4 linked regions of the Homo sapiens genome follow. The protein of the gene in region 4 purifies or fractionates together with the protein of the main gene of each other region. This does not show direct contact. Each region holds a gene or a part of one and is shown on either strand. Other genes may lie near its edges.

Region 1 (3,500 bases), on a different chromosome or scaffold from region 4:
ATGTACTAATTCCTATTGTTTACCAATTCAGATTGGCCTTCCCTCCAAATAGTGAGTTTTTTTTACCTTATTTGTTTCATACAGAGAAGTGAGGCATGGTCTATAGTCATAGTGCTTGGATTTTTTTAAAAACTCAACTTGAGATCAAAATAATGGGATTGGCTCCAGGGGCTTTTTCCTCACTCCCTTGCTACATGGAACCAGTTGTACATCTCAAAGAGAGAGACAGTCAACTTGAGCACAAAATCTGGGTCAGTGTATGTGACTGTGCCTCCGTGACTTTGCACAAGGACCAGAAATGAGCATACAAATCAGAGGAAAGCAGTGACAAAAGTCAACATTCCCTTGATGAGCTAATTGCTTCATGTCTGGCTGAAGAGCAGAAAGCAAGAGATAAGGAGAACATACTATCTGAGGGACCAGGCAGGCTCTGGACTAGCCAGCCCTACCCCAATAAAATCCCCTCATCAGACACTGCCCCCGAAACAAGGCCTGCTGGCTTGAGCACCTGACAAGAGAGAACCTGAGAAAGATAAGCACTAAGCTGAGTAAGGAAGGAGATGGCAGAGAAGCAGCAAAGTTCCTTGCTACTCACAACTTTTAGTTATTCAGCATGAAATACCTATAACTATTGGTATAAATAATATGTAATACAAACCAACTAAGACAACAATGAGGTGATGGTTAAGATAAAACTTGCTTGGTCAGCATAACCTATCCTGAAACTACGACGTGGCTCAGAAACTGGAAACTATTGTTGTCAATAATGATGACAACACAGAGCATTTACATCAGGGGTCCCAAACCCCCGATACTGGTCTGTAGCCTATCAGAAACCCATCCAAGGAGGTGAGCAGCAAGTGAGTGAGCAAAGCTTCATCTGTATTTACAGCTGCTCCCCAACGCTTGCATTAACGCCTGAGCACCGCCTCCTGTCAGATCAGTGGCAGCATTAGATTCTCATAGGAGCACAAACTCTATTGTGAACTGTGCATGCAAGGGATCTAGGTTGAACACTCCTTATGAGAATCTAATGCCTGATGATCTGTCACTGTCTCCCATCACCCCCAGATGGGACCGTCTAGTTGCAGGAAAACAAGCTCAGGGCTCCCACTAAGTCTACATTATGGTGAGTTGTATATTTCATTACATACTATAATGTAATAATAATAGAAATAGGTTGGGCATGATGCCCATAATCCCAGCATTTTGGGAGGTCCAGGCGGGTGGATCACCTGAGGTCAGGAGTTCAAGACCAGCCTGGTCAACATGGTGAAACCTCATCTCTACTAAAAATACAAAAATTAGCGGGTGTGGTGGTACACATCTGTAATCTCAGCTACTCAGGAAGCTGAGGCAGGAGAATTGCTTGAACCTGGGAAGCAGAGGTTGCAGTGAGCCAAGACTGTGCCACTGAACTCCAGCCTGGGTGATGGAGTGAGACTCTGTCTCAAAAATAATAATAACAGAAATAAAGTACACAATAAATATAATGTGCTTGAATCATCCCCAAACCATCCCCCACATCCCCCAGTCCATGGAAAAATAGTCTTCCATGAAACTAGTCCCTAGTGCCAAAAAGGTTGGGGACTGCTGTTTTACATTGTGCCAGAGGAAGCACCATATCTATTCTCTGAATTCTTAAGATAGCTATAAAAATACATATTACTATTCCCATTCAACAGATCATAAAACTAAGGCTTAGAGAAAATAAGTAACTTACAATCTGACAACTAGTAAGTAGATATCAGAACGTAAATACAAGTGAGTCTGACTCCAAAGTGTGTTTAAACCACTCTGAAATACACTCATTCCTTCTCTCTTTCTCTTAGAGATGTCTTGAAGGTTTGCTTGGATCACCAGATAAGGTCCACTGTTACATCTGGCCTCATTCTTTACAGAAACACACAAGTCTGGCCTGAGCACTATTTGTTTCTAACACGGAGGAAGGCTTCAAATTCATTTCCTCTGAGGTAAGAGCAAGAGAAACACATTTCGACATGAGTAGGAGGAAAAACAGCACGACAGCAAAAATCTTCAACCATGAGGGTATAAGATCATGTACAAGGCAGTAAGTGGAGACAGGGCCTCCTCCTTCCCAGGAGACTTTTAACTGCAAAAGCATCCTGCATCTTTACAATGCTTTAAACAATTCTAACAACTTCTATGGCCACCCTTTGTAAGACCCCTAGCCTGTGTCCCAGCTCTAACACTAGAGTCCCACTATTATGTGGGTGGCCTAAAAAAGATCCTACCATTACGTGGCCCACTTCACTTCTCTGGGGCTCAGTTTTTGTCGTCAGAAAAATAAAAACCTATCAAATGCAAAATGGAGGCATTGGGCAGTAACAGAACTAGAAGTGTATCTCCTGACTCTTCACTCATCCACAGTACCACAAACAGCCAGCCCTGATGTTTGCAAGGAAATAAAGATCTCTATAATATCTTCCAGCCCAAAACACAATCATTTTAGACTTTAGCAGCTGGGTCCAAGGATGGAGACTTAACTTCAAGAATACAGTCAAACCCAACTCCCCATGAGTATGAGATGGGGTGTGGGGAAAAACAAGAAGCAACCTTAGGCCAGAGACAGTGGCTCACACCTGTAATCCCAGCACTTTGGGAGACCGGGGTGAGCAGATTACCTGATGTCAGGAGTTCAAGACCAGCCTGGCCAACATGGTAAAACCCCATCTCTACTGCAAATACAAAAATTAGCCGGCCATGGTGGCAAGCACCTGTAATCCCAGCTGCTTAGGAGGCTGAGGCACAAGAATCACTTGAACCTGGGAGGCAGAGGTTGCAGTGAGCCAAGATCACACTCACACCTGGGTGACAGTGAGACTCTGTCTCAAAAAAAAAAAAAAAAAAAAAAAAGCATCCTTAAATACTTACTTACAACTTACTTATGAGCTGGCCCCTTAAGCTTCCAATACACACTATCCACAGCACTCAAAGCATGGCCAATCAATGTTGTCTGTATCGATTGTCCTACTTTATGTTATTCCACTGGGCTGAAGCCTGCTAGTTTTCTAGTTTGGTCAGATGGCTGCTTTCCCCTTGGGAGCCTCACAAAAATGAGACTATCCCCAGAGGTAAAGAAATGTCCATTTAAAAGCCCACTGGTATAGCTGGGCATGGTGGCTCACACTTGTAATCCCAGTGCTCTAGAAGGCCAAGGTAGGGCATCACTTGAGGCCAGGAATTTAAGATCAGCCTGGGCAATGTTGCAAGCAAGACCCTGTCTCTTTAAAAAAAAAAAAAAAAATTAAATTAGCCAGGCATGGTGGTGCACACCCATGGTCCTAGCTACTTGGGAGGCTGAGGTGGGAGGATCACTTGAGCCCAGGAGTTGGAGGTTGCAATGAGCTATGATCACACCACTATACTCCAGCGTGGGCAACAGAGTGAGACCCTCTTAAAAAGGGCCAGGCACAGTGGCTCACGCCTGTAATCCCAGCACTTTGGAAGGCCGAGGCCGGCAGATCTCGAGGCCAGGA
Region 2 (3,500 bases), on a different chromosome or scaffold from region 4:
ATGAAAAGCTAACTACAGCCCAGTCTGGCCTCCAGCAGCCCAGGGTCAGCTCAGCCTCCACTGGAGGCGAGGGAGGAGGGCAAAGGGCATGGGAGAGGTAGGGCTGCCCTCCAGGAGCCTTCCCCTTCCCTAGGAGCCAGTCAGGATTGGGGAGGAAGGCAGAGGGGTCCTAGGGAGCTGTCACATAGAGGAAAAGGGGCTGGGAGTGGGGATGACAAGAAGTACAAAGAAAGAGAAAGTTTGGGGAGATGGATAACAAGCTCAGCTGTGTCAGTGATGTGGAGGGGAGGTATGGTGGGGGACCAGCCATGGCCCTATCCAACCCCAGGCTCCACAGGCCCCAAATTGGCTTTGCAAATCCAAACATTTTAAGGAAGTGGTTTAGGGATGGAAGAGAAACACGGTAGAGGTCTGTGCTGTGGATTTTCATCTAGGGTGGTGGGAACACCAGAGATGTCTCCTCTGCCATTGTTTTAGTTGGCTCCTGGACCTCATCCCAGCAGAGGGAGGGTGACTGTCAGCAGGTCAGTCCCACCGCCACTGTCCCCCTCGCAGTGGGCCTCTGTGTCTCAGGCCTGGCCAGGCTCCCTGCCCCTCAGAGCTCCTCGTGGACCCGCTCCTCGTCCTCATCTGACTTCAGCTTGAGCTCGTCGACTGTGATCTTGCCGTCCTGGTTGCGGTCCTGGTTCTGGAACATGTCTCCTATGGTTTTCTCAGGGTCCTGCCCAGGCATGAGGCGTCCTTTGCCCTCACTCACTTGAGCCTTGATGAAGGTGGAGAACTGGGGCAGGGGAGAGCCGGGGGAGCGGGCAGTGAGGGTCATGGCCTTGGGAGGGGCAGGGGCCCCGGGTGGAGGCCAGTGAGTGCTTTCTTTTTCTTCTTTTTTCCCAGGCTCCCCCGCACCCTGTAACTCAGGAAGGGCTGGGAAAGGCACTGGTGCTGGGGTCCTGGTGGGGGCTGGGGTGGAGGCGTGGCATGGGGATAGTCTGTGACTGGTCTCAGGTAGGGAACAGCCTGCATGTGTGCCCAGGAAAAAGCAGGGACAAGGAGCCTGAGGCGTGGGACTCAGCGCAGGCAGGAGCACCAGGGCGGGTGGGCAGTCCGGACGGGGGACGTCTTCTTCCTCGATGCTTCCTGGGTGCGGGGATTGCGTGGGCATGGCTATTAGGACTGAACCTTCACCCACCTCCTCCGGAGGGACCTCGCCATCCTTGTTGAGGTCCATGTCTTCAAACAGGTTGGCAGGAGGGTCCTTGTGCCACACAAACAGGTAGCCTGTGGGCAGCCCATCCTCCCGGGACACCAGCTCCACCTCAAACAGCAGCACAGCACTGCCTGGGACTCCCCGGGCTGGAGGGAGGGCAGGAGAGAAGGGAGGGGTCCTAGTCAGGCCGGGGTCTGGGCCTGGCTTCACTGTTTCCCAGCCCACAGGCCAGTTTCCCCTCCTGGGGCTGGGCTGGAGAGTGGGGCATGGGATGTTTAAGGAGCCATCCTGAAGGCATTCCTGACTCCTCCCACCAGTCATCAGACCCACAGTGGGCAGGAGCAAAAGGGACAGATGCCAGTCAGATTACGGTCTCGGGCCGAGCGCAGTGGCTCATGATTATAATCCCAGCACTTTGGGAGGCCAAGGCGGGTGGATCACCTGAGGTCAGGAGTTCAAGACCAGCCTGACCAACATGGCAAAACCCTGTCTCTACTAAAAATACAAAAATTAGCTGGGCACGGTGGCAGGTGCCTGTAATCCCAGCTACTCGGGAGGCTGAGGCAGGAGAATCACTTGAACCTGGGAAGTGGAGGTTGCAGTGAGCTGAGAGCACACCACTGCACTCCAGCCTGGGTGACAGAGTCAGACTCCATCTCAAAAAAAAAAAAAAAAAAAAAAAAAAAAAGATTATGGTCTCAGCCCCTCACCTCCACTCTCCCCGTGGGCCAGGTGCGGGGGCACGATGAGCTGCCGCCTCTCTCCCACACACATGCCCTGCAGGCCCGTGTCCAGGCCTTCGATCACCTTGTTGGCCCCGAGAGTCGCCTCCTGGGGGGCCCCGTAGTCATGCCTGGGGGAGAGCAGATGCCCAGGTCAGCAGCCACCCTGTCCCCTGCCAGCGCACACCCCTCTCCCTCTGAGGTGGGCCCAGAACAAGCCCTCAGTTCCGGAGTTACTCCCACTGGTGACTTGGGCCACGCAGCAGAGTGCAGGGGCCCAGCTGTGCAGACGTGGGGTTCCCTTCTCATCTTGCCTCTGCCCCCTAAAGTGTGGCCTCGAGGGCTCATGGCTCCCTGCGTCAGTTTCCCCTCTGTGAAATAGAAAGAGCAGTTCTCCCCCAACTGTTGGCTTCACCTTCCCTTCCCCTGCGAAGCAGAGAATTTCATCTCCTCGACATGCTCCGAGATGGGGACTTACAGAAAGCAGCAAGAGGTTGAATGCTCCCCTGGCGCTCGAGGACCAAGAGGGAGGAGCAGGCGTCGGGGGTGCACTGAGGAGGACTCCCCATGCCTGTGCCCACCCACCTGCCCAGTCCCGGCCCCCCCCCGGACCCACGAGGTGAACAGCTGGGTGCCGTCCAGCAAAGAACAGTTGTAATGGTATCGAACAAAGTCCCCAAGCTTGGTGGTCTCATTGCAGGTCTCAGATGGCCGGGACAGTGTCCTGATTTCCACCACATCCGCAGGGTTGTGGAAGTCAATGACATGGACGTTGAAGATTAGCACGGCAGAGCCAGGGATCTTGTCTCCTGAGGCCAGAATGGGGGAGTGTGGTCAGCTCAGAGCACTAGGAGAGGCTACTTGAGGTCTCTCCATGGAGGTCCCCAGACCTGATACCCCTTCCCGACCCTGAGGATCCAAAGGAGGATGGGACGGGATGTTTGTCCAGAGTCAATTCTAACAAACTTTCACTGGGGCAGGGGGCAGGGGAAGGCAGCTTTCCAGTAAGAAAGCCCTTTTCCACTCACCGTCTTGCAAACTCCCAGTAACTTACCCTGCGGATCAGCATGGCTTGCCCACTTGACAGGTGAGGACACTGAGGCTCCCAGCACAGCTGGGTCCTGGGGGTATGCTGGTTCTGTTTTTCCATAACCACCCTCCCTCCCCAAACTTGGCTGCCCTTCTCCACTGCGGAAGGGGCGAAGTGGGGCGCTGCCCTGGAGGAAACCGATGGAGTCTGTGTGGCAGGAATCAGATGGGGTGACCAGATGTAAGCTGCATGCATGTTTTTGTGATGAGAGGGGCCGAGCGGTGCCTGGAATCCCACTGTGGGAGGGGGTGGCCTAGACACAATGGGCAGTTCGGAGGAGGAGCTGAGGTGGTGGCTGGGGAACGCCCCTACCAGTTCCATTCTCCCCATAGGCGAGGTGCGGGGGGATGGTAATTCTCCGGCGTTCCCCCATGCAGGCACCCTGCAGCCCCTGGTCCATCCCGGGGATGATGTAACCCTGCCCGATATAGGTATTGTAGGTGTGGTTGCGGGAGTAGCTGCAATACAAGGCGGGAGGGCCAGG
Region 3 (3,500 bases), on a different chromosome or scaffold from region 4:
TTACATCTTTCATAGACAAAGTCCCTACCAGTCAACAGAGCTAAAAATAACACTTAATCCTTTTCTTTTTTCGAAGAATGTTCTTCAGTACTAAATCTAAGAAGCAGTCAGCATTGCTTTCTGTTGCCAGGCAGGGTGCAGGGGGCCAGGCAACTATGCTCATTAAATGTCTAAGTTTAAAATAAAAGGCAAGAGCATGAAATCTCTGGGTAAGCTCTGAGCCTGTATAAAGAAGCTAGTGTAACTGGTCTCCTAAAAGTAAAAGCCCATTTAATATTGATAGATCTTCAAGTTTGTCTTTTCACAAGAACATCAGTGTAAGCTTCACATTTCACATAAGGGCATCTAAAACACCAATCTGCTCCTCTCTCTCTCTCTTCTTCCCTATCCATTTGTGTAGAATTTTCCATGGATTTGGGGCTGACTGCCACAGATACAGGCCAAGAGGTAATCCAATCTCATCACGGTTTGCCAAAGCCTACCTAGAGGAAAACCCGTCCATCCCATCCCCACTCTGGACCTACAAGTGCCATGGGATGCCAGCACGTGGCTCCTGGGCCTGGTACTTGGACTGCAGGTGTGGCAAGAGGCCCTGGGACTGACTGGCTTTGGCAACAGCAATTCTGAGGAGGCCAAATGAGCAGGCTGGAGGGCTGGTTCCCTCTGGGATCGGTGGATCCAATCCTCTATTATTCTTTAATTGAGAGTTCACCACTTTAACATACTGTTAAAAAACAACTATCTTATACAAGGTATCCACTCTGGCTTCAAAATTATGACACATTAAAAACTGACATTTTATGGTCTTACTTGTTTTCCAGAACTGTATCCTCCGCTCCGTCCCCCGAGGCGATCCTTCACGAGCTGGCGCAGAGCACTCAGCGCAGCATCTACAATGGCTTCACCAGTTCTGCCACCTACAGGAGACGGAAGGTAGGCGGTCCTCAGCCCGGCCTTCAGCAAGTGCCTCATCTGGCCCGGCCCAAGACTGTGTCTTTACCTCACTGTCGGCTTCACCAGGTGTGACACAGTTCTGACACGTGTATCTCTGACAGAACACACTTTCTCCCCACAATGCATTTTGCACTAAACTTAACACTTGGAAAACCAATTCCTTTTCCTTTTTTATTTATTATTATTATTTTTTGAGATGGAGTCTCACCCTGTTGCCCAGGCTGGAGTACAGTGGCACCATCTCAGGTCACTGCAACCTCCGCCTCCCGGGTTCGAGTGATTTCTGGCTAATTTTTGTATTTTTAGTAGAGACAGGATTTCACCATGTCGGCCAGGCTGGTCACAAACTCCTGACCTCAAGTGATCCGCCCACCTCAGCCTCTCAAAGTGCTGGGATCACAAGTGTGAGCCACCGTGTCCAGCCCGATTTCTCTTCTTAAGTTTTACGTAGTGTGAACGAAAACTCCCTGCTCAAACACCATCTCCTAATGAGAATAACTCACAAATGTTTACCGAACATGAACATGGATGAATAAGAAGCTTAATATCTAGCTGAGAAAGCAGGGGAATTTCCCAAATAAAAAAGGAACAATTTCTGTGAGATACCAGATAGAAAAGATGGAAAAAGTAGGTATGAGGTGTCTTTAAAGCCAAGTAACTGGAAACCATTCCAGGCTTCTTTTTTTCTATCTTGCTTGAAACAGTTAAGCTGAACTTAATCCTAATATAAGTAACAAATCTGCATTAAAACTCAAAGAGGCAAGATGATAATAGTCTTTGGAAGTTCACCAAAAACTTATTTGCTCAAGACAGTCAGGGGCTATTAACTAACACAGAAGTACTGGAATAACATATGCCATCTGCTTTCTTCAGTTTAAAGGCAAAACTAGATCTAATAGAATCTCTTTAGAAAGTTCATTTTCTGGCCAGCTGTGGTGGCTCACGCCTGGGATCTCAGCACTTTGGGAGGCAGAGGCACGTGGAACACCTGAGGTCAGGAGTTCAAGACCATCCTGCCCAACATGGTGAAACCCTGTCTCTACTAAAAACACAAAAATTAGCTGGGCGTGGTGGTGGACATCTATAATCCCAGCTACTCAGGAGGCTGAGGCAGGAGAATCACCTGAACCCAGGAGACGGAGGCTGCAGTGAGCTGACATCGCGCCACTGCACTCCAGCCTGGGTGACAGAACGAGACTCTGTGTCAAGAAAAAAAAAAAAAATCTTTCTTTTTTTTTTTTTTTTTTTTTAGAGTTTTCTCAAACTCCTGTACTCAAGTGATCCTCCCACCTCAGCCTCCCAAAGTGCTGGGATTAGAGATCTAAGGTGTGGCAGCCGGCCTTTTTTTCTGCCCAGGAAGAGAAACTTTTGAGAACACACCAGACCTGACACAAGAAACAAAATATAGGCCGGGTGCGGTGGCTCACGCCTGTAATCCCAGCACTTTGGGAGGCCGAGGCAGGCGGATCATGAGGTCAAGAGTTCGAGAGCAGCCTGACCAACATGGTGAAACCCCATCTCTACTAAAAATACAACAATTAGCCGGGTGTAGTGGTGCATGTCTGTAATCCCAGCTACTCAGGAGGCTGAGGCAGGAGAATTGCTTGAACCCAGGAGGCGGAGGTTGCAGTGAGCCGAGATAGCACCACTGCACTCCAGCCTGGGCAACAGAGTGAGACTCCATCTCGAACAAAACAAAACAAAAATACCCACAAAATATATTACAGCAACTCTCAGCATCTATTCAGATAATCTTGCACTGTATCGCTGGCTGAGCCTACCAAGTATGTCACTTGATAACACAGAAGGGCAAGGCCTCAACATGAAACAGCCTCTGCTCCTTATCTATGTCAGGTATTTCCGTCATCTGAACCACTGCCCCTTCCCCGAGTCTTTATCTGGACATATGCCAAATCATGAAGTATACTAGGAAAAAAACTTTTCAGCGTTTTGGGCCATACTGTCTATTGCAACTACTCAATTCTGTTGTTCCAGTGCAAAAGGAGCCAGAGACAATATGTTGACAAACAGGCAGGGCTGTGTTCCAATAAACTAAATTTATAAAAACAGCAGCAGACTGACTGCACTAAAAACATGTGCATTTTCATAAGTGAGGAAAACTAAAACAAATTATTATTCAAAGGCAGAAAAGCAGGTGTTTACTCAGGGGAAAAAAAAGTCTCTCCCTAGAACTTTGGAGCTGGGGAGCCTAGCAGAGACAACGTGTCCAAGGCCACATCTTCATCTTCAGACGAAGACGAAGACGAAGATGAGCCCTCCAGCCTCGAGATTTGCCAACGACACATATTTGCCAAGTATTTGTCTCATATGCTTTATGTGTACTATTTCAATTAAGCTTCTGGTACCTTAAAATAGGTTTGCACATCCCCATTATACAGAGAAGCAAGACACTAAGTACTGTTTAGTTACGACGCTGGAGTATGGAGAGGCTAGCAGCCAGGCAGCCAGGATGGGCTGCCTTCCCAGCTCACACACGACAGATTCTGTACCCCTCACCCCTACCTTCCCTGCCTTCTATTAGCTGG
Region 4 (3,500 bases):
GCTGCTTTGCAATCCCTGGCCCACAGAAACTGCAAAATAACAAATGGTTTAAGGCAATGAGTTTTGGAGTAATTTGTTACACAGCAATAGGTAACCTATACAGCAGTTTCTACCCTCATGGAGTGCATATTCTAGTGGGGCTGACAAATACACAAATTGATATATATTATATCCAAAAATAAGTGCCACAAAGAGAACTAAAGCAGGGTAAGAAAATAGAAAGTTGGGCAAGTCATTATTCTTCTCTGAGTCTGTTTCATCATTATAAATTCTATATAATGCCATAGCCTACCTCATGTGAATGCTTTGAGGATTACATGAAGAAAAATGTGAAGTGTTTTGAGTTTTGGTTTCCTACTTTATACAACAGGGGTCTTATATACATGGTTATGAGAATTAAATGATAAATTATGCATAAACGTTGTAAACTGGTGGCACGTGCTGAATTTAGCCAGCAGAAATGGTTCGTATATAATGGACAAATATCTATTACATAACTACAGTGTGTTAGGCATTGTGTTAGACATTGAAAAATGTTATTTTGCCTTTCCAATAGTGAAGTGAAACCCACCACAATTCTAAAAAAAGGATATATTTGGATAAGACAATAATATGAGAAGCCAGAGTTGTAAATATTCTTTTTCCCATCCTGTACATTAAGTATACTAGAGATAATTATCCTTACTAACTACTTTTGGGAACAAACAGTAAAATAATAAGCACAATATTTATGAAGATATAGTGGTAATATGTTTCCCCCAATGGATCTTCAGCAAATAGTAAAGGTCTGAGACCAAAACTGATGTTGGAAAATTGTGAAAATCACCCCAAATAAAGCCCAGATGTGAATAACCTAGAACCTAGACTGTTAAATGACAAGAGACCTCTGAAAGACCATCCAATCTCATAATCTCTTACCTGGACTACCACAATGGACTTTTAATTGGTCTAAAATCTCTACCTAGAAGCTAGAACAATCTTTTAAAATTATAAATGAGAGCATAACATTTCCTGCTTAAAGCTCTCAAATGGCTTCCTGGTGGATTTCATTCTAATTACAAAGTCTCTGCAAAGACCTATAGGATCCCACATGATTTAGCTGCTGCCTTTCTCTCCAGTTTCATTTCCTACTAGTTTCTCCCTTCATTCACCACACACTCAGCCACACTAGCTTTCTTTCTAACCCTTGAACATGTCCAGCTTATTTCCAACTCAGGCCTTCAGTAACCTATTCCCTCTTTATGAAATGGTTTTCTCCCAGCTCTCATGGCCAGCTCATCATCATTCAGATCTCAGCTCAAATGTCACCTCCTCAGAGGCTTTTCTTGACCATCCTTGCTGAAGTAGTTCCCCACTACTGAGTCACTATTGCAATATGCTGTTATTTTCTGCATAGCATCTATTTCTATCTAAAATTATACTGTGCATTGTGTGTTTATTGTCTCCCTCAACTAGAATGAAATCTCCAAGAGATTAGAAACTAGCTTTGTTTGTTCACCATTGTGTCACCACCACCTAACACAGTGTCTGGTGCAAGAAATTTTCCCGTAAGTATTTGTTGAAGAGGTGAACACAAAAACAGTAAGGGTCTCTAACACTCTTGTGAGCCATCTGGATCTTTTTTTTTTTAATTAAGAAACATGGTCTTGCTCTGTCGCCTAGACTGGAGTGCAGTGGCAAGACTACATAGCTCACTGCAGCCTCAAACTCTGGCTCAAGCGATCCTCCCGAGTAGCTAAGACTACAGGATGCAAGCCACAGCACCCGGCTTGAATCTTTATAAATTTCCAAAAACAGTGACCAATTTCTTCACAACGTGAGAACTGGGAGGCATCTTTTGGCATAAGGCAGTTGTGTGAAAACAAAGAACTTCTATAGATAAGCATAGACAAAATAATAAAGTCTGATGCTATTACATAAATGGCAAAATAGAACAAAGTCATTTTAAAGAATGACTGCTATTAAAATTTTTTAGTAGCAAGTGAGTAAATGAGTGAGCAAATGTAAGTACTTAAAGGTTACTACCAACATAAAAACATGTTTCTGCAGATTCAGAACAGCATAGTGGCTGTAAGTACAAACTTTGGAATCAGACAGATTGTGGATTAAGTCTCAGACCTGCCTCTTATTAGCTGTGTAATCTTGTGTAAGTTATTACTTAGCTACTCTGAACCTAAGTTTCCTCCTTTATAAAATGGGAAAGATAATATCTACTCCACAAGGTCGCTGTGAGAGTTAAAGGATATACTCTATGTACAGTGCCTGCGATAGAATAAGCATTCAATAAACATTAGCTATTACTATATTATTGTATAGTAAATCTTACAGTAAATCTTTTAGCCAATCTTCTTGAAACAGTGCTTTACATTTGTCTATTTATCATTACTTCCTGTGTTTATCTCCTTCTATTAGAATCTAAGTGTCATAAACACAGGGACATTTTGGTTTACCAGTACATCCTCAACAACCTAGAACAGTGCTTAGCACATAAGACAAACATTTCTTTCTTTTGTGTGTGTGTGGGGGGGCCTCTTCAAGAGTCAGCTTGATTTTTTCTTTTTTATTACTTGAATGAATAATCAAACATATTCCTCAATGCACAGCAATTGGCTTTTGCAAACACCAATTCACCAAACCTTCTAAAAAATATTAAATCCAACAGACTCTTTGCAGTCCTTATCATATTAGATCGCTATTGCATGTGACATTAAGTAACCACTCATTCCTTCTTGAAACTCATTAACTTCTTTGGCTCCCATGACACTACTCTCTAAGTTTCCTCGTCTTTGGTGTCTTTCCTAGGTTCCTCATCTGCCAAGACCTTAAAAATTGGTATTCCGGTCAGGGCACGGTGGCTCACGCCTGTAATCCCAATACTTTGGGAGGCCAAGGCGGGTGGATCACGAGGTTAGGAGTTCGAGACCAGCCTGACCAACATGGTGCAACCCTGTCTCTACTAAAAACAAAAATAAGCCAGGCGTAGTGGCGGGCACCTGTAATCCCAGCTACTCAGGAGGCTGAGGCAGGAGAATTGCTTGAACACGGGAGGCAGAGATTGCAGTGAGCAGAGATCACGCCATTGCACTCCAGCCTGGGCATAAATAAATAAATAAAAATTGGTATTCTGCAGTGTTTTTTCCTTGGCCCAGTGCTCTTCCCTCTACACCAGTAATTGTCAAATGCAGAAATACCAATGGGGGCTTTTGCCAAACTATACTTTCCAGGGTCTGAGAATTGCTGCCCCAGGCAATCATTATTACGGGAAAGAATTTTATAGTACTCCAGTATGCTGGGAAGGCAAAAAGGTTGTGAACTCCTCTACCTACTCTCCTTGGTCAACTCTCTCCACAGTTATATACCACCTGTGTGCTAATGACTCCATGGGCTTTTATCTATATCCATGAACCCTCTCTTGAGTCAGGGCTAGAATATCCATATGTATCCACTGGATTTTCCTCATGCACATCAAACTGAGTATCCAAAACTAGGATGTCTCCCCC

Evidence for each region.
Region 1: the proteins of SLC25A14 (region 4) and SIL1 purify together in Homo sapiens (affinity purification with mass spectrometry; one large-scale study listed by BioGRID and IntAct). This does not show direct contact.
Region 2: the proteins of SLC25A14 (region 4) and FKBP10 purify together in Homo sapiens (affinity purification with mass spectrometry; one large-scale study listed by BioGRID and IntAct). This does not show direct contact.
Region 3: the proteins of SLC25A14 (region 4) and PDIA6 purify together in Homo sapiens (affinity purification with mass spectrometry; one large-scale study listed by BioGRID and IntAct). This does not show direct contact.

The regions. Positions count from the first base shown.
Region 1 is NC_000005.10:139,188,369-139,191,868, forward strand, and holds part of SIL1 (nucleotide exchange factor SIL1 precursor), read right to left. Parts: intron 1-3,500.
Region 2 is NC_000017.11:41,819,504-41,823,003, reverse strand, and holds part of FKBP10 (peptidyl-prolyl cis-trans isomerase FKBP10 precursor), read right to left. Parts: intron 3,475-3,500; coding exon 3,329-3,474; intron 2,736-3,328; coding exon 2,543-2,735; intron 2,298-2,542; coding exon of another isoform or gene 2,241-2,297; intron 2,058-2,240; coding exon 1,915-2,057; intron 1,351-1,914; coding exon 1,187-1,350; intron 782-1,186; coding exon 596-781; 3' UTR 1-595. UniProt on the Homo sapiens protein: PPIases accelerate the folding of proteins during protein synthesis.
Region 3 is NC_000002.12:10,792,286-10,795,785, forward strand, and holds part of PDIA6 (protein disulfide-isomerase A6 isoform d precursor), read right to left. Parts: intron 918-3,500; coding exon 811-917; intron 1-810. UniProt on the Homo sapiens protein: May function as a chaperone that inhibits aggregation of misfolded proteins. Negatively regulates the unfolded protein response (UPR) through binding to UPR sensors such as ERN1, which in turn inactivates ERN1 signaling.
Region 4 is NC_000023.11:130,367,419-130,370,918, reverse strand, and holds part of SLC25A14 (brain mitochondrial carrier protein 1 isoform 1 precursor), read right to left. Parts: intron 1-3,500. UniProt on the Homo sapiens protein: Transports inorganic anions (sulfate, sulfite, thiosulfate and phosphate) and, to a lesser extent, a variety of dicarboxylates (e.g. malonate, malate and citramalate) and, even more so, aspartate and glutamate and tricarboxylates.